4 linked regions of the Homo sapiens genome follow. The protein of the gene in region 2 purifies or fractionates together with the protein of the main gene of each other region. This does not show direct contact. Each region holds a gene or a part of one and is shown on either strand. Other genes may lie near its edges.

Region 1 (5,194 bases), on a different chromosome or scaffold from region 2:
TCCAAAGGCCCCTCGTACCATGACCGTGGGGGTTAGGATTTTAACATATGAATTTTGCGGCGGGGGCAGGGAGGGAACACGGACATTCATATTAAAGCAAGAGCCAAACCAAGACTCATCCTTTGCTAATTCATCGTGATTCTTCCCCACTCCTGTTTTCTCCTTCTGCCCTTCAGGGATGCATGAGGAATGTGTCTTTCCTTTCACCTACAAGGGATCTGTTTACTTCACTTGCACCCATATTCATAGCTTATCCCCTTGGTGTGCCACCAGAGCCGTGTACAACGGCCAGTGGAAGTACTGCCAGAGTGAAGGTGAGTGGTATCACATTGTCCCTGCCAGTGGCCTTTGAATAGGGTGGATCACAAAAGAGAATGTGTGACTGTCTATGACATGATCACATTTTTGCAGACAAACGGTAATACGTATGCGTGCGTAGAAAAGGCTCTGGGTTTTAATGATCGCCATTCTAACTTGTGTGAGAACACATGGACACAGGAAGGGGAACATCACACACCGGGGACTGTTGTGGGGTGGGGGGCGGGGGGAGGGATAGCATTAGGAGATATACCTAATGCTAAAGACGAGTTAATGGGTGCAGCACACCAGCATGGCACATGTATACATATGTAACAAACCTGCACATTGTGCACATGTACCCTAAAACTTAAATTATAATAATAATAAAATTTAAAAAAATCAGTGATAATGTAATGGGTAATAAATGATATATAATTACTGTTTTTAATTTCCACAAATAAAAAAAAAAGAAAAAGAAAAGGCTCTGGGATGCCTGACAATGAATGCTAATAATGGGTAATAATGTTAATAATGCTAGTGTTAAAAATAGTGCTCTCTGGATGAGGGTCTTGTGATACTGTAAGACTAGTTGACCCAATAGAACCATCCCATCTTTATGCCTTTCTTAATTTTCTAAGTTAATAAGGAAAAAGGAAACGAAGTGTAAGAAACGGGATTTGAGGCTGGGCGAGGTGGCTCATGCCTGTAATCCCAGCAAAACTTAACTACTAATAGCCTGCTATTGACGAGACGGCTTACCAGTAACATAAACTGTCAATTAACACATATGTTTTATGTCTTATGTATTATATACCGTATCTCATAATAAAGGAAACTAGAGAAAAGAAAATGTTAATAAGAAAATGGTAAAAAGGAGGAAATATGTTTGCTATCCATTAAGTGGGAATGGATCAGCATAAAGGTCATTAGCATCATCTTCATGTTGAGGAGGAGGAGGAAGAGGAAGGGTTGGTCTCACCATCTTGGGATGACAGAGGCAGAAGCAATGGAGGAGGTGGAAGGGGAGGCAGGAGAGACAGACACATTCAACATAACTTTTTTTGAAAAACACCCATGCCCACTGGGCACAGTGGCTCATGCCTGTAATCCCAGCACTTTGGGAGGCCGAGGCGGGTGGATCACCTGAGGCCAGGAGTTCGAGACCAGCCTGGGCAACATGGCGACACCCCATCTCTACTAAAAATTAAAAAAAATTAGCTGGGTGTGGTGGCAGGCATCTGTAATCCCAGCTACTCGGGAGGCTGAGGCAGGAGAATTGCTTGAACCCAAGAGGCAGAGGTTGCAGTGAGCCAAGATCTCGCTATTGCACTCTAATCTGGGCAACAGAGTGAGACTCTGTCTCGAAAAAAAGAAAAGAAAAGAAAAGAAACTCACATATAAGTGGACCCGAGTTCAAACTTGTGTTGTTCAAGAATCAGATGTATATGGCATAGGCAAATGCTTGATGAAATAATGCATAAAGTCTCTTCTGAACCTTATGTCTGTCCTGTCCTATGATGGTTGATTGATGATTAAATGACTCTGTCCTGTGAACGACTAGAGGAAGTTAAGACACTCACGAACTCTGTTCCTAACAGATTACCCACGCTGTATCTTCCCTTTCATCTATCGAGGAAAGGCTTATAACAGCTGCATCTCCCAGGGCAGCTTCTTAGGCAGTCTGTGGTGCTCAGTCACCTCTGTCTTCGATGAGAAACAGCAGTGGAAATTCTGTGAAACGAATGGTGAGCCCCTGTAGCAGGGATGGGATGTGTGGTGGGAGGGAGAGTGGACAGCATGGATCCTCCTGAGGGGAGGCTGGGCAAGGTAGAGACCAGAGCACCCAGGGGGAAGTACTTACAGGAGCCAAGTGTCTGCTCAGAGAGTTCGCTATGACAACGACAGACAGGGGTATCCCGAGGCCATTCGCCCAGTCCCCAGTCCAGCATGAAAAGACAGGAGTCCTGAGAACTGAAACAATGAGCTGAAGTCCTGATATTGGCTTCTGAGTATTTCTGTTTCTAGAACTGACAATAGTGAGATTCACCCACTGATGGACCCAAACTGCCTTTTCTTTCCTTCCTTCCTTCCTTGCTTCCTTCCTTCCTTTCCTTTCTTTCCTTTCCTCCCTCCCTTCCTCCCTCCCTCCCTTTTCTCTTTCTTTTCTTTCCTTCTTTCTTTCTTTCTTTCTTTCTTTCTTTCTTTCTTTCTTTCTTTCTTTCTTTCTTTCTTTCTTCCTTCCTTCCTTCCTTCCTTCCTTCCTTCCTTCCTTCCTCCCTTCATCTCTCTCTTTCTTTCTTTTTCTCTTTCTTTCTTCTGTTTTTTACAGGGTCTTGCTCTGTCACTCAGGCTGGAGTGCAGTGGAATGATCTCAGGTCACTGCAACCTCTGCCTCCCAGGTTCAAAGGATTCTCCTGCCTCAGCCTCCTGAGTAGCTGGGATTGCAGGCGCCCACCACCACACCCAGCTAATTTTTGTATTTTTAGCAGGCACGGGGTTTCACCATGTTGGCCAGGCTGGTCTTGAACTCCTGGTCTCAGGTGATCCATCCGCCTCGGCCTCCCAAAATGCTAGGATTACAGGCATGAGGCACTGTGCCTGGCCCTGACCTGCATTTCAATGCAGCCTAACATCATATTAAGTCTACACATAATCTTAGGTGAATAATGACCAAAATTCATTGAATGTCCTCTCTGTCCTACACTGATCCAAGAGCTTTGTATACAATATCCTGTTGAATCTTTCCATAGCAGCTCTATGAGCTGCTGCTCGCCACCACCTGTTCAATAAATGGTCCCAGTATAACTGAGCCCTTCCCAAGGTCACAGTCCTACACTATATTAGAATTAGAGCTTGAGTTCTAGTCCATATAGTTCCAAAGCCCATGCTCTCTCCTTAAGCATTGTTGCGTCCACAGAGACAAAGATGTGTGAAGGCAGTTATTCGTAGGCATGCTTACTCTTGCGTAAAAATCTTAATTCTGTTGTTCCCTTAGCACTCAACAAATCCTAATTCCATCTAAACCTTAATTTTATTCTAGCCCTAATCATCCACCATTTGTGTTCTTTACTATAAACAAAACTTAACCTTAAATCTCACTATAGCTTTGTCCTAGTAGTTAACCTAATCTTTCATCCCAAGTCCAACTCTTTCTCCATTTCCATTCCTAACTCTAAATTGTATCATTAATACATACATTCCATCATTAATAAATACATTAATAATATACTCTGTCATTAATACATCATTAATTCATAACCTTAGCCATTTCTTAACCCTAAACCAAATAGATGAATTAGGAAAGGTATCAGTGAGACCAGGCTCAGTGGCTCATGCCTGTAATCCCAAAAGGGATTGGGAGGCTGAGGCAGGAGAATTGCCTGAGGCCAGGAATTTGAGACCAGCCTAGGCAACATAGGAAGACCCGCTCTGTAAAAACAAGAATTAAAAAATTAACTGATCATGGTGGTGCGTGCCTGTAGTCCCAGCTACTTGGGGAGGCTGAGGTGGGAGGATTCCTTGAGCCCAGGAGTTTGAGGCTGCAGTGAGCTATGATCACATCATGGCATTCCAGCCTGGGCAACAGAGTGAGATCTTGTCTCAAAAAAAAAAAAAAAAAAAAAAAAGGAGGAAAAGAAACATCACTTTTGTGGTAATATAACCTTAATATCTAAGCTCCTGTTTATCCTTAAAACTATCCAATCTCCTTAGACCCAGTTTTGATGGAGTAACAGATTCAAATTTGCATAAATCACCAAACGGATGTCCAAGAAGAGATACCTTTTAGCTTTGGCTTCCCCATTAGGTTAAGAAAGTTGTTGATTATTTCCTTTCTATGGATAAGTGAGAACCAAGACCACCCATGGCTGCATGCTACTGTCTCCATGAACATAGCTTTACCGCTTCACAGTCATCATCAACTTGACTCTACTAACCCAGGAAATTCGTGCCTGGGAAGTCACTTTTATTATCTGCAAAATGAGAATGCTAAGGCTGGCATCACAGGGTTTTTGTAAAGACTGGAGTTTATTTTCATGCAGGATTGATGGTGATGCCATACCAGGTACCCAAGAAATGTGAGCTTTCTTCTGCTATCATCTGAGACACTAGGCAAAAAAATGGGCTTTGAAGTTAGACCCGAGTTGGAATTCTGTTGTTTCCCTTACCATCTATGTGATCTTGGACACATTAGATCATAGAAGTAATAATTATCATAACATAATGAACTTTTAATAAGCATTTTCTATGTGCCAGGCAGTATTTTAAGTGCTTCACATGAAATAACTCATCTATTCCATACAATAATCTCTATCAGGTAAATGTGATTATTAGCCCAGTTTTACACATGGACAAACTGAGGTTAATAGAAGCAAAGCTGTGATTTTGATCCCAGGAAGTCTAACCTTCAGAATTTGTGCTCTTAATCACCAGTCATTACTGCCTGAAAACCCCAACCCCTTAGTCAAATTCTAGCTCCCCATGAAAGACCACCAAAGGAAATTAAAAAAAAAAGCCTGCTAATTAGGCAAGACTGAGTTTATTGCTCACTTCCTTGACAGCATCTTAATAACGTCTTGGGCTGGGCGTGGTGGCTCATGCCTGTAATCCCAGCACTGTGGGAGGCCGAGGCAGGTGAATCACCTGAGGTCAGGAGTTCAAGACCTGCCTGGCCAACATGGTGAAACCCCTTCTCTAATAAAAATAGAAAAATTAGCGACGCATGGTGGTGCATGCCTGTAATCTCAGCTACTCGGGAGGCTGAGGCAGAAGAATCTCTTGAACCCGGGAAGTGGAGGTTGCAGTGAGCCGAGATCGTACCACTGCACTCCAGCCTGGTTGACAGAGAAAGACTCCATCTAAAAAAATAAAAAATAACGTCTCGAAGTGGGGAGGG
Region 2 (5,194 bases):
ACTCTGTCACCCAGACTGAAGTATGATGGTGTGATCACAGCTCACTGCAGCCTTGATCTCCTGGGCTCAAGCAATCCTCCCACCTCAGCCTCCCAAGATGCTGGACCCACAGGCACGTGCCACCATGCCTGGAATTTTTAAAAAATTTTGTAGAGACAGGGTCTCCCTGTGTTGCCCAGGCTGGTCTTAAACTTCTGGGCTCAAGTGATCCTCCCACCTTGGCCTCCCAAAGTGCTGGGATTACAGGTGTGAGCCACTGTGCCCAGGCCTGGCTGATTTAAAAAAAAGAATTTTGAGAGACAAGGTCTCACTAAGTTGCCCAGGCTGGTCTTGAATTCCTGGCCTCAAGCTATCCTCCTGCCTCAGTCTCCCAAAACACTGGTATTACAGGCATAGCCACATGCCTGGCCCAAACTATTTCAACTGACCTTCATACAGTTATATTTTAAAAGATATAAACTCATACCTCTTTATACCCATGTCTCTAATTGCAGATGGAGGAGGGCCTATAAAAATAATTCCTTCTTGCTTACAAAGTTCAGCAAATTCCATGTTTTCTGAGAGAAAACCGCATCCTGGATGGATAGCCTAGAAATGAGAAATAAAATAAAAAATTTACTCATCAGTGCTCAACTGGCAACACCTTAATGCAGGTGAAGCTGTCTTCCTCTGGGAGGCCTCTCCCTACACTGGTAATAGTATGGTCTCTATTAAACTCTGTTTCCAAAGAAATATCTGAAATATTCATATGAAAGCTCTGAAGGCTTACCTAAACCAGATGAATCTATATTTCTTTTTATTGTGATAATATATACATAGCAAAACACTGACCATTTTAGTTACTTGCAAGTATGTAATTCAGTGGCATTAAGTACACTCACAATGTTGGGCAACTGTCATCACCATCCATCCTCAGGATGTTTTAATCTCCAAACATAATTCTCCATTCCCTCCCTTTCCTTAGTCCCTAGTAACCAGGATTTTACTTTCTGTTTATGAATTTCTCTAGCCAAAGTACCTCATGTAAGTGGAAGCGTATAATAATTTGTCTGAGTTTGGCTTATTTCACCTAGCATAATGTTTTCAAGGTTCATTCATGTAACATGTATCAAAATTCCATTTGTTTTTAAGGTTGAATAATATCCAGTTTGTACACATTTTGTTTATCCATTAATCTCTTGATGGACATTGTGTTATTTCTACACATTGTGAATACTGCTGCTGTGAACAACAAGTATTGGTATACAAGTATCTGTTTTGAGTCCCTGCTTTAAATTCTTCTAGCTGTATACCAAAAGTGGAATTGCTGGATCATATGGTACAGAAGTTTCTATATACTTAAATTTAAAATAATATTGCAATTAGGGTAGAATGTCAAGAAGTAAAGGGCTTCAGAGTGGTAAGGGGAATTTGTCTATTCTGTCTCTGTGTAAAACTGGCCTAGAATTGAAATCATGGCATCCAAAAGCCCCAAACAGAACACTAGCTCAATAAATACCTCACTTATCTTCAGGTCATCAATGTCATCTTTCCAGAAAAAAAGCTAAGAAGCAAATGAAAGTCATGTATTAAAGTCTACAGGAGTGTCCCCTTATCCAAGATCCCTAGTGGATGCCTGAAACTATGAATACTACAGAACTGGACTGATACCAATTTGACCACGCTTCTGTTCATGTCTTCCAATCACAAATGTAATGCCTTTCCCATCTTAACTAAGTACTTGCCATGCCCTGTGGCCATAAGTTTTGCAGTTTGAGGTGCAACAGGAAAATGACATGAATTTGTTTTTCCTTCTTCACAATTTCACAGATAGAAACTTGGTCCTTACCAAGAACCAAGAAACCTCAACATACATATTTTTTTCTTTCCTTGAGAATTTTCACCTTTTCACTTAAAAGAAGCATTTCATGGCTTCTCTTTAGCATAAGTGAATTGCCACCATCATTGCTCTTGCATTTTGGGGCCATGATTTAAATAAAATAAGGGTGACTTGAACACAAGCATGGTGGTACCATGACAGTCAATTTGATAACCTAGATGGCTCCTGAGTGACTAACAGATGGGGAGTGGAGACAGCGTGGAGACACTGGACAAAGGGACGATTCACATCCTGGGAGGGACAAAGCAGACTGTGCAAGATCTCACTGTGTGACTCAGAATGGCGTGCAATTTGAAACTTATCAATTGTTGATTTCTGGAATTTTCCATTTAATATTTTCACACCATAGTAGACTGCAGGTAACTGAAACCACTCAAAGCAAAACCGTGGATAAAGGGGACAACTGTACGTGTACTTTCAGTGAAAAGGGCATCCCTCAGACTTCAGCCTAGTTACTTCCAGTGTACTCAGAATTTTAACAAACATACTTACTGGGATTTTAGCCCACAGAAGAGGAAATTCAGTAACTGAAGGACAGCAAGATTTCTAAAAGTAAACACGCTGACAGCAAAAAGGGAAGAAACAGAAGGAGGCAAAAGGCAGAGAAGACTTGGATGATTTAATGAGTGATGAAGCCACACCCTCTCCAACATCAGTAGCCCTGAGGGGATTTGTTCTTCTAAAATGTGAGCGAGTATTATAATTATGACCAAAACAATGTAAAAACACAAAGGTTCAGCCAATCCTGTTTCAAAATAGTTACACTCAAAGAACATTTCAAAATTAAAGGGGTAAGCTTCACATATCTGGGAAACTCATACGAATAGAAAAACCCACATCCTAGTGACAGGAAACAATGCAATGCCAGATACAGATAAAATGCTGGATACTCATATGTTGCAGCCAGTTTAGAGTTTTATATCTTTTAAACCAAAGTTCAATTTTATTTTATTAACTTTTATTTTAGGTTTGGGGTGCATGTGAAGATTACACAGGTGAATACATGTCACAGGGGTTTGTTGTACAGAGTTCGTCACCCAGGTATTAAGCCCAGTATTCAATAGTTATCTTTTCTGCTCCTCTCCCTCCCACCTTCCCCACTCAGGTAGACCCCAGTGTCTTTTGTTTCCTTCTTTGTGTTCTTAAGTTCTTATCATTCAGCTCCCACTTCTAAGTGAGAACATGCAGTATTTGGTTTTCTGTTCCTGTGGGAGTTTGCTAAGGATAATAGCTTCCAGCTCCATCCATGTTCCCGCAAAAGATGTGATCTTATGCTTTATTATGGCTGCATAGTATTCCGTGGTGTATATGTACCACCTTTTCTTCATCCAATCTGTCACTGATGGGCATTTAGGCTGATTCAATGACTTTGCTATTGTGAATGATGCAATGAACATACATGCACATGTGTCTTTATGGTAGAATAATTTATATTCCTCTGGGTATCAACCAGTAATGGGATTGCTGGGTTGAATGGCAGTTTTGCTTTTAGCTCTTTGAGGAATCACCCTGCTGCTTTCCACAATGGTTGAACTAATTTACACTCCTACCAACAGTGTATAAGCGTTCCCTTTTCTCCACAACCTCCTGACATCTGTTATTTTTTTGACTTCTTAGTAATAGCCATTCTGACTGGTGTGAGATGGTGTCTCATTGTGGTTTTGATTTGCGTTTCTCTAATGATCAGTGATATTGAGCTTTTTTTCATGTTTGTTGGTCACATGTATGTCTTCTTTTGAGAAGTGCCTGTTCATGTCCTTTGCCCACTTTTTTTTTTTTTGAGACAGAGTCTTGCTCTGTCACCCAGGCTAGAGTGCAGTGGCATGATCTCATCTCATTGCAACCTCTGCTTCCCAGGTTCACGCCATTCTCCTGCCTCAGCCTCCCAAGTAGCTGGGACTACAGGTGCCTGCCACCACGCCCTGCTAATCTTTTTGTATTTTTAGTAGAGACAGGGTTTCACCATGTTAGCCAGGATGGTCTCATCTCCTGACCGTGTGATCTGCCCGCCTCGGCCTCCCAAAGTGTTGGAATTACAGACGTGAGCCACTGTGCCCGGCTGTCCTTTGCCCACTTTTTAATGGGGTTGTTTTTCTCTTGCACATCTGTTTAAGTTCCTTATAGATGCTAGATATTAGACTTTTGTCAGATGCAAACTTTGCAAATATTTTCTCCCACAATTTGAGTATTTTATATAAAATGGTCAAACATCTATACTAGGCAAATGAAACAGGTCTATGTCCTAGTCCTCCCTGGTTTGGGTTTTCTTTTGAGATATGATTTATAATACATAATATTCATGCATTTATAGTTTGGTGAATTTAGTAAATCTATACAATTGTGCAACTACAATTGGATCACTACAATCCAGTTTGAGAACACCTGCATCACTTGAAAAAGTTCCCATGTGCCCATGTGCAATCTGTTCCCAATACCCAAGCAACAACTGACTTGTTGTCTCTATAGTTTTGCCTTTAAAAAAATTCATATAAACAGAATCATACAGTACATAGTATTATGTGTCTGGCTTCTTTAACTTCACATAATTTTTCAAGGTTTATTCATGTTATGGAGTGTGTCAGTAGCTCATTTCTTTTTATAATATGGATTCTGTTATATGGATATACCACATTTTGTTTACCCATTCATTTGAATTATTTTCCAGTTTGTGGTTATTATGAATAACGGTGTTATAAACATTCACAGACAAGTCTGTGTGAACATATTTTTCATTTCTCTTGGGTAAATACCCAGGAGTGCAATTGTTTGGTCCTAATATGGTAAGAATACATTTAACTTTTCTAAAGCGATGATTTTATTTTGCATTTCTACCAGCAATTTATGATGCTTTAAAGTGTGTATCCATATCCCTGCCCACATGTTGTACTATCAGTCTTTCTGATTTTGGCCAATCTAGTGGGTGCATAGTGTTACTGCACTTTTTAAACATAGTTGTTGAGATATAATTCATATACCATAAACTCGGCCAACCCAATGATTTTTAGTATACTCAAAGTCGCACAATTATCACTATAATCTAAAATACTAAGATCTAATAATGTAAGTTTTTAACACTGCAAAAAGAAATCCTGTGCCTCTTAGCCATTCCTCACTCCCCATAAACCCCCAGCCCTAGGCAACTGTGAATCTACTGTCTCTATAGATTTACCTATATGAACATTTCATATAAATGGAATCATATAATACATGCAGTCTTTTGTGACTGGCTCTGTCACTGAACGTAATATTTTCAAGGTTCATCCATTTTTTGTTTAACACAAATCAGTACTTCATTCCTTTTTGATGGCAAAATAA
Region 3 (4,195 bases), on a different chromosome or scaffold from region 2:
TCTGCCTGGAATGTTCTGGTGGTTCACTGAGGACTCGGCTCCTTTGCACAGAGTTTCCTGGCCACCACCCCCATCACTTCCATATTTTTATCCAGCTTTATTGTTCTTGGTATTTACCGCCTCCCAACATTATAGCCCTCATCGACCTGTTTATTTACTTTCTGTCTCTCCCACAGAAGGTGAGAACCTGGAGGGCAGGACATTGTGCCCTGTCCTTAGGCCTTGAACAGGGCATGGCATTTGCTGAATACACTGAACAGGGCATGGCATTTGCTGAATACATTAATGACAACAGAGACTGACCCACAGAGAGGTGGAAGGGGAAATAATGGATAGATGAATGGAAGGAAGGAGGGAAGAAAGGAAGGAAGGAAGGAAGATCAGATGGACACATTGATGGACAAGTAGATTGAAAGAAAAATTGATGGATAAGTGGATAAAAGGATAGATAGAAAGATGCGTGAGTGGAAGGAAAAATGGATGAATTAATGGAAAGAACAAATATAGGAAGATGGAAGGAAGAATGAATGGATGGATGGGTAAGTGGGTGGATGAATGGATGGATGGATGGATGCATGGATGGATGAATGGGTGGTAGGTAGTTGGATGGATGAATGAATGGGTAGATGGGTGGGTGGGTGGATGGATGGATGGGTGAGTAGATGAATGGATGGGCACATGGGTGGGTGAATGGGTGGATGAATGGGTGGGTGGATGGATGGATGGATGGGTGAGTAGACGAATGGATGGGCACATGAGTGGGTGAATGGGTGGATGAATGGGTGGGTGGGTGGGTGGAAGGATGATGGATGGATGGGTGAGTGGATGGGCAGACTGACAGACATTCAGATGGAAACATGCAGCAGCAGACAAACACAAGATCAGGGCAGTAGGGGCACATGGCTCTGCCTGAAAGGATTAGAGCCTAGGATATGGGCAAATTTCCCAGCCCCTTCCTGGGAGTCTCAGAACACTCAAGCCCCAGCCTCCTTCAGCACGCCTCTCCCACAGGTCCCGCCCCAGGCCTGGCTCCCTCAGGAAGTGATGCCGAGGAACGTGGCGGGTGGGGGACCAACCCCAGGCTTTATTGAGCAGATTCCAGGGAAGGGTGGACAGGTCGGCCCTCGCCCCAACCCTGGAGCCTCCTCTTCTTGCCCTTGCAGCCCCCCAGGGTGGGTCTGGGTCCTTGAAGTCTGGGTGCCTTTCAGCTGCTGGGGAAGCGGCCCCGCTTGTGCCACTTCTGGTCACGGATGCGGCGCACAGACTGCAGCTGCGGCTGGCTGGCGTCCCACTCATTCCAGTGGCGGTACTCGCCCCGCTCAAACACGTACTGGCGCCCACGGTAGCCGGGGAACTCATAGCCAACCCACCTGCCGGGAGACCAAGGTTGAGATGTGGACGGTCTGCTTCCAGTCACCCTGCCTCCAGCCAGCATCTGACCATGCACTCTGCCTGCCTACATTCCTCTTTAGCTCCCCAGAGCCCTTGGGATGAATCCAAACTCTTTACCCTGCTCACAGGACCCTTAACAAAGCATCTCTAGCCTTATCTCTCAACATCCCATTCACACTCAACACCGTGGCCTCTCTTATTCTACTTTCCCGGAACCTGCTGTGTTGGGGGGCCTTTGTATGCATGATTCCTTCTGCCTGGAACACTCTTGCTCACCTCATCCCTCTCCTTCCCCCTTTTTTCCACTTGCATCCATTACAGCTCAATTTAGATGTCTCCAGACTCCTGCAGGCTGAATCGAGTACCTCACTGGGACTCCCAGAGCCCCTTGTGCATCCCAGTCCCAATCCTGATCACAATACGTTGTGAATACCTGTTACTTTGTCTGTCTCTCCATCAAACTATGTAATTTTTCTTTTTTTAGATGGAGTTTCGCTCTTGTTGCTCAGGCTGGAGTGCAGTGGCGTGATCTCGGCTCACTACAACCTCCACCTCCCAGGTTCAAGTGATTCTCCTGCCTCAGCCTCTTGAGTAGCTGGGATTACAGGCATGCGCCACCATGCCCGGCTAATTTTGTATTTTTAGTAGAGACGGGGTTTCTCCGTGGTGGTCAGGCTGGTCATGAACTCCTGACCTCAGGTGATCCGCCCACTTCGGCCTCCCAAAGTGCTGGGATTACAGGCGTGAGCCCCAGACTACGCAAATTTTTTGAGGGCCAGAGGATGTGCCATTCTTGTTGTTCTCTGTATCAGCACACCAGCATATAGTAGATGTTCAGTAAAAAATTGTTGAATAAATTATTATCAGGGATAGGTGGCACCTCTCAAGGCCCAACCCCAGATTACAAGCCCACAAGTGAGATGTAACCACCTACAAAAAGCAGGTGATCCTAAGACTGCATCAACGGTGATATTAAGCCTAGAAAGAGGGAGGTGATAAGCCTGCTCTCCTCTGTACAACTTGTGTCACATCTCAATAACTGCATACATCCTGGGCCCCTTGTTAAGAAGAACAAGAGTTGTGAGGGGGAAGAACATTTCAAGAATCAGTTCAAGGGTGTGGGGATGTTTAAAAAAGCAGGAAGGACTCAGATGGGAACAGGTGGAGAGAACAGATTTTACTTGTTTTAAGTCAAGGCTGCCTAGAAATCTCAACAGTACAGGAGTGCAGGGAACATGAATCATGCAAGAAACTATAGGCACCGATGGCCGGGCGCCGTGGCTCACACCTGTAATCCCAGCACTTTGGGAGGCCGAGGCGGGCAGATCATGAGGTCAGGAGATTGAGACCATCCTGGCTAACACGGTGAAACCCCGTCTCTACTAAAAATACAAAAACTTAGCCGGGCGTGGTCGTGGGCGCCTGTAGTCCCAGCTACTCGGGAGGCTGAGGCAGGAGAATGGCATGAACCCGGGAGGCGGAGCTTGCAGTGAGCTGAGATCGCGCCACTGCACTCCAGCCTGGGCGACAGAGCAAGACTCCGTCTCAAAAATAAATAAATAAATAAATAAAATAATAAGAAACTATGGGCACTGATTCTGTTTGGAGCCAGAGGCATGGCTGACCAGAAGATGGGGCAAGGGTGAGGGTTGGGTCCCTTACGTCCCGTTGATGGCACGGACACTCGCCACACGGTCCTGGAAGCCATGAGCCCACAGGCTGGGCACGTCATCATCCACTATCTCCATCTTGCGGCCACTGAAAGCTGGGTTCTCAAACAGATGCAGCTTGTGATGTGGACTATCCTGAGGGCAATATCGTGGGGTGAGCGGCTGCTCCCATATCCAGAACAGAGGTCAAGGAGGCTCCAGATGCCGGAAAGAATCAACAGGTCACCACAAAATAACACCCACCCCCAAACCTGCTGCAGGAGGGAAGGGCCTCAGGAGATGCCTCCACCCCCAAATTCACTGTAGGAGGGACGGGGAGATTCCTCCAAAGCTGGTTGATTTAGGAACCTAGAGCCGTAGATTATAAAACTGAAAAGGAATTTCCAGATCTTGTTCAATCCCATCATTTAAATGATAGAGAAACTGAGGCCAGGAGAGGGTGGACAGAGATCAAAAGTATCAACATATGAGCTTTCCCTCTTTCCTAACCAGATGCCGGTTTAATCTTCCCAGTTTCCCCTCTTCCACTGCCCTCTAAGGAGGACTCAGTTATGTGACAAAGAGAAAGGGCTGGAGCAGCTGCGGGGTGTGAGTGAAGCAGGGGAGGGAGAAGGGTGGTGTTTAAAGTGTCACTGTGGGCCGGGCGTGGTGGCTCAGGCCTGTAATCCCAGTACTTTGGGAGGCCGAGGCAGGCAGATCACTTGAGGCCAGAAGTTCAAGACCAGCTTTGCCAACATGGCAAAACGCCACCTCTACTAAAAATACAAAAATTAGCCCAGCGTGGTGGCATGTGCCTTCAGTCCCAGCTACTCAGGAGGCTGAGGCAGGAGAATCACTTGAACCCAGGAGGCAGAGGTTGCAGTGAGCAGAGATCATGCCACTGCACTCCAGCCTGGGTGACAGAGCGAGACTGCAACTCAAAATGAAATAAAAATACATAAATAAAAATGTTTAAAAAGAGAGAGAGAGAAAGACTGCACTCCAGCATGGGTGACAGAGCAGGAGTCTGTCTCGAAAAATAAATAAATAAACAAATAAATAAAAAGTGTCACTGTGGACTGTGTCCCTTTCAGGTGCTAGAAAAACACAAGTGGAGAACTTAAAGTATTTTGGCTACTTTCTGAAGTTATTTC
Region 4 (5,194 bases), on a different chromosome or scaffold from region 2:
CTTAAAGGCTTTTTTTTTTAACTGACACATAGTATAGTTTCAAAACCCATTTAACTACATTCTAGTCTTTGATTTAACTACATGGTAGTCTTTGTGCAGAAAACAAAGGCACGGTCTCTTCATAGTCCTTTCAATAAAATATGAGTTCGTAGTCTCCATGTAATACTGTATACAGCTACTACTGCTGCTGCTACTTAAGTCATTAGACATTAAAATGAGTGACAGTTCTTTTTTAAAAAGATAAAATGATGTAAAACTAAATTTTTGTTTTCATGTCAACTGTAACAAAAAGCAGAGAAACTACAAAACACTACATATTTTATTTGCCAAGAAAATGTGACTATAACATGAAATAAAATCACCACAAGATAAAATTTCTTAATTTTATTATCAAATAGTTTTTAATGCCAAAACATTTAAATCCATAGTTTGGTATATTTGTTGTAACAATTGGTAACGATAAAATAACATTAGTACCAAAGTACCTGAAAAATGAGTTATGTAAATTTACAACATTTTTTTTTTACAAATTACTAATCTACGGGTTGTGAATTTATAATCAATATTAAAATTCAAAACACTAGCATACATATTAAAAACTGATTTGTAATAGTGATGAGGAAAACAGTTGTTACATAAAAACTGTATTAAAAAAGAAAACAAAATAAAATGACTATTTGGTGAAAAACAGTTTATAAAACGATTGCCTTATAACAGTACTAATCTCACTGGCAGGTAATATCTTAAAAATTCAGATATTTTTAAGATATTAAAAATTCAGATAATCTTACTGGCAGGTAATATCTTAAAAATTCAGAACAGAGAAAGGTTCTTTTATACCCAGAGAACTACATATACAAATCACATCTTTTTTTTTTAAGTTTTCAAAATGAGATATTATTATACATGATAAATACTAAAAATGTCAAAATAAGATATAGCGCAGAGAAGTTAAAATCTTTTAGTGAAGATCAAAAGCAAAAATGTAGAAAAAAATCCTAGAATACTGATTAAGATGAAGACTAAGACAACAAATACACAGTGAATTCTGGGATTTGTGACAGCCACGCCAAGTCACCCCTCAGTATCAATGGACAATGGTTTGATCCTCCCACAGATACCCGAATCCACAGATGCTCAAGTCTCTGATATAAAATGGTGTAGTACTTGCATATAACCGACACACAGCACACCCCATACATCAAATCATATCTAGATTACTTGTAATACCTAATGAATGTAAACAATATGTAAATAGCTGATACACTGTATTGTTTTATGGAACAGTGACAAGAAAAGAAAGTCTGTACATGTTCAGTATGAATGCAAATTTTTTTTCCAAATATTTTTGATCCAAGGTTGGTTGACTCCACAGATCCCCCAATCTGGAGGGTTGACGATACAGTGAAATTCACTGACACAGATTTTCCTTTTCTGATTTCTGTGACACAATTAGGTGAACAGGGTATGAAACCTCCTTTTGGCAGTGCGTTTCCACAGCTTCCCCATCATTCAAAGACACATTTCCTATGCACATACTGGAGGCACAGAACAAAAACCCAGTACAACAGAACTACTCAGAGCCTGCAACTTCACTCCAGGGAAAAACCCTTTACAGTAAGATACTTTATCAGTTTTCTTAAGAGCGGGAGGCTTGTGGTGAACATATAATCATCTGAAAGGTGTTAATGCTCAAATCAGTTGTATGGGTGGAAGGAAATTTTCCAAAAAAGGAAAAAAAATAAAGATGGGGATGAGTTATGCTGGGTGAAAGAAGTCAGTCAAAGGTATACAGGATTCCACCTATGTGACATTCTAGAAAAGGCAAAACTATAGGGAGAGAGAACAGATTAGTGGTTGCCAGAGGTTAGTGGGGAGGGGGGGGTGTGACTACAGGGAGATTTTTGGGGGTGGATGGAACAGCTTTGTATCCTGATTGTGGTGAGGGCTGCACAAATTTATACGAGTTAAAATTCATAGAACTGTACCATCCTCCAAAAGAAGTCAATTTTACAGAATAATAATTTTAAAAACAAGTATACATTTTTTTTAAAGATGGAGAGGCTAACAAACTTTGCAACCTTTCCAGGTAAGGATTCATGAGACCTGAGCAGCCAGCCAGCCCTGAAATGGTTGGAACAGGAGAAAGAAGAAGAGCTCGACAGATACCCTGCCTGGGCTGGCAGCCCAGCTGCACCACACGCTGGCCAGCTGACAGCGGGCACATCCCTTCATCACCCAGTGCCTTTCTTCCCTCTTGTGAAAATGGAGATATGCTGAGAAGGTTACCTCAGCTCATCCAGGGAAAGCTTCTTCAGCTAACTAGGCTGTAGAAAGGGCCTACAGTCTAGTTAAATTTCCAAAAACAAGTTAATGCCAGAATATAAACTCCATGAAGTAACAGATTGTGTCTGTTTCATTCCTGCATGTATCCCTCATGCCTAGACAGTGTCTGGCACACAGTACGTGCTCAACATTGACTGAATGTGAGGGAAAAACCTATGCAGTTCTATACCATGTAGACAGGATCATAAATGATCACTATTTAAATTGTGTGTGCTGCTTTCCTTGACAAGAGTAACCAAGAGTCAGCTCCTTCAAGCTGATAGGAAACCCTGCTTCCTGGAAATGAGTATATCGAAGAGATATCTGCACTTCCATGTTTGCTGCAGCTCTGTTCACAACATCCAAGATGAGAAAGCAACCCAACTGTCCATGAACAGATGAATGGATAAAGAAAGTATGGTACTTACACACAATGGAATGCTATTCAGCCATAAAAAAGAATGAGATTATGTCATTTTCAACAACATGGATGGTCATTATGTTTAGTGAAATAAGTCAGGCACAGAAAGACAAACATCACATGTTCTCACTCACTTGTGGGACCTAAAAATAGATACAACTGAATCATGGAAATAAAGAGTAGAAGGATGGTTACCAGAGGCTAGGTAGGGTAGCAGGGTGGCATGGGGGAGGTGGGGATGGTTAATGGCTACAAAAAAACAGGAAGATTGAGTAAGACCTACTATTCGATAGCACAACAGGGTGACTACAGTCAATAATAATTTAATTGTAGATTTTAAAATAACCAGAAGAGTATAATTGGATTGTTTGTAACAGAAAGGATAAATGCTTGAGGGGATGGATACCCCATTTTCCCTGATGTAATTACTATGCATTGCATGCCTCTATCAAAACATCTCATGTACCTCATGAATATATACATGTACCCACAAAAATTAAAAATAAAAAAAAAAGAAAATTTTGCTATCTCAGCAATGGATTTCCTAGTTGCTGAAGAGATCTAGGTATACACTTCTATTTCAAATTTAAAATGTTAAAAAAAAAAAGTCTTTACAATCATTTTGATGTCAAAACTTGGTTTTTAATTAAAAAAAAAAAAGCATTCCTGAAAAGGTTTATTAAAACTGGTTTTCACACCTCTTATGAAAAAGAAGTGGCTCACACTTATAATCCCAGCACTTTGGGAGGCCGAGGCAGGAGGTTCACTTGGGGCTAGGAGTTCAAGATCAGCCCGGGCAACACAGGGAGACCCTGTCTCTATTAAAAAAAAAAAAAAAAGAAAAAGGGGAATTTTGTTGTAAATGTACACATAAAGTGTTCTTAGAATTTTGGGAGACACTTTCATAAATGAAGAATCTCTGTCAAATGAATATATATGTAAATATATATTACCCAAATATAGCAAATATTTGCTATATTAGTATTCATTCATTATATATTACATGTATATTTTATTAAACATACGTATTAAAGTACAAGTTCTAAATATCACCTTTTCCTATAATATTTTCCCATTCCTAATGACATATTTCATCATAAAAAATTATACCCAATGGATCTCAGTTTCAGACATTTTTAACTTTATAATCTAATATTAATAGTAAACAACAAAGGATAAATTTCACTTAAATTTTAACAAGTTGAAAGAGAGGTAGCTTCAAGTCTGAGGTAAAGCACCTTACCAAGTCGGCCACTCTGCATAAGGAATCCGAGAGCTCATCGAAGATCAGCACGGTCTGGGGCCCAGGTGGGGTGGAACATGCACGGTCCACAAGCAATTCTGTCTTTCTCAAGGCTTTTTCTTGTGCAATATGAAATCCTTCTGGGGCACTCAGCTCAGGAACTCCAAAAAGACCCTTAGAACCAAAGAATACGTCTGATTTATAACCAAAATTCAAAATTGTGCTTTTTTTATATTTACTAAAATTACTTTTATCACAAAGGAGATCTTGACTTTCATTGGTGTATCATGTTATACCTGTGATCACAGATACCACTATCATACTCCCCATATCACTCCACATAAATTACACTAAAAATGTTTTCAGAACATAATTTTTCTTCAATTTTTAATTATTTTCCGGAAAAAACAACAACAACAATGGTATGGGTTCAAAATCCAGCTGTCACTTCTACAGAACCTAAGAGTGGCCGCAAAGATTAAATGAGATCATATATGTAAATATATATATATATATACATAAAGCAGTGTTTGGCACAGAGCATTTATAGATGTTAGCCATAATTATTATTAGCTTATAACCCTGGTCATGTTATTTCTCCTCCTAGGAGAAATATTTTTTTCATCATGTACAATGGGAATGACGATACATACCTTACAGCATGGATACAGGTAATAAGTATATGTAAAGTACTAACAGCAGCAGCTGACAAGGTGAGATCTCAGTACATAGTACCAATTATTCTATAACTATCAAATAGGGAGGATGAGTTGACTATGAAGCAATAGATATTTTAGAAAAATGTAATGAACATATTAAAATCATAGGCTGAAACTGGGAGCAAATTTTATACGTTACAAAGACATTTCAATATCTTGATAAAAACAAAAATCACTGATCTAATGGTAATGACCATTCTCTTGTTACCTATTCAATCACACTTGTTAGCACACTCAGGAAGGCAGGGGGAAAAAGCATTTAATATGCACCTACTGCATACCATGAAGTGTGCCTGCTACTTTACATAGGTTCTCATTTAAATCACACAATCCTACAGAACAGAGTATCATTCTTTTACAGATCAGGCCACATGCTTTAAGACGTTAGAAAAAACTTGTTTGAGGTCACAAATTAATATTGGGAAAGACAGAACTCGAACCCGCTCTGTACATCTGTAAAGCCCACACTTTTCCATACTTCTCTAT

Evidence for each region.
Region 1: the proteins of MCCC1 (region 2) and ELSPBP1 purify together in Homo sapiens (co-immunoprecipitation; one large-scale study listed by IntAct). This does not show direct contact.
Region 3: the proteins of MCCC1 (region 2) and CRYBB3 purify together in Homo sapiens (co-immunoprecipitation; one large-scale study listed by IntAct). This does not show direct contact.
Region 4: the proteins of MCCC1 (region 2) and MIPEP fractionate together in Homo sapiens (co-fractionation; one large-scale study listed by BioGRID). This does not show direct contact.

The regions. Positions count from the first base shown.
Region 1 is NC_000019.10:48,013,995-48,019,188, forward strand, and holds part of ELSPBP1 (epididymal sperm-binding protein 1 precursor), read left to right. Parts: intron 1-176; coding exon 177-314; intron 315-1,898; coding exon 1,899-2,045; intron 2,046-5,194.
Region 2 is NC_000003.12:183,071,900-183,077,093, forward strand, and holds part of MCCC1 (methylcrotonoyl-CoA carboxylase subunit alpha, mitochondrial isoform 1 precursor), read right to left. Parts: intron 589-5,194; coding exon 467-588; intron 1-466.
Region 3 is NC_000022.11:25,204,222-25,208,416, reverse strand, and holds the end of CRYBB3 (beta-crystallin B3), read right to left. Parts: intron 3,198-4,195; coding exon 3,055-3,197; intron 1,371-3,054; coding exon 1,205-1,370; 3' UTR 1,058-1,204; downstream 1-1,057. UniProt on the Homo sapiens protein: Crystallins are the dominant structural components of the vertebrate eye lens.
Region 4 is NC_000013.11:23,882,344-23,887,537, forward strand, and holds part of MIPEP (mitochondrial intermediate peptidase), read right to left. Parts: intron 4,164-5,194; coding exon 3,990-4,163; intron 1-3,989. UniProt on the Homo sapiens protein: Cleaves proteins, imported into the mitochondrion, to their mature size.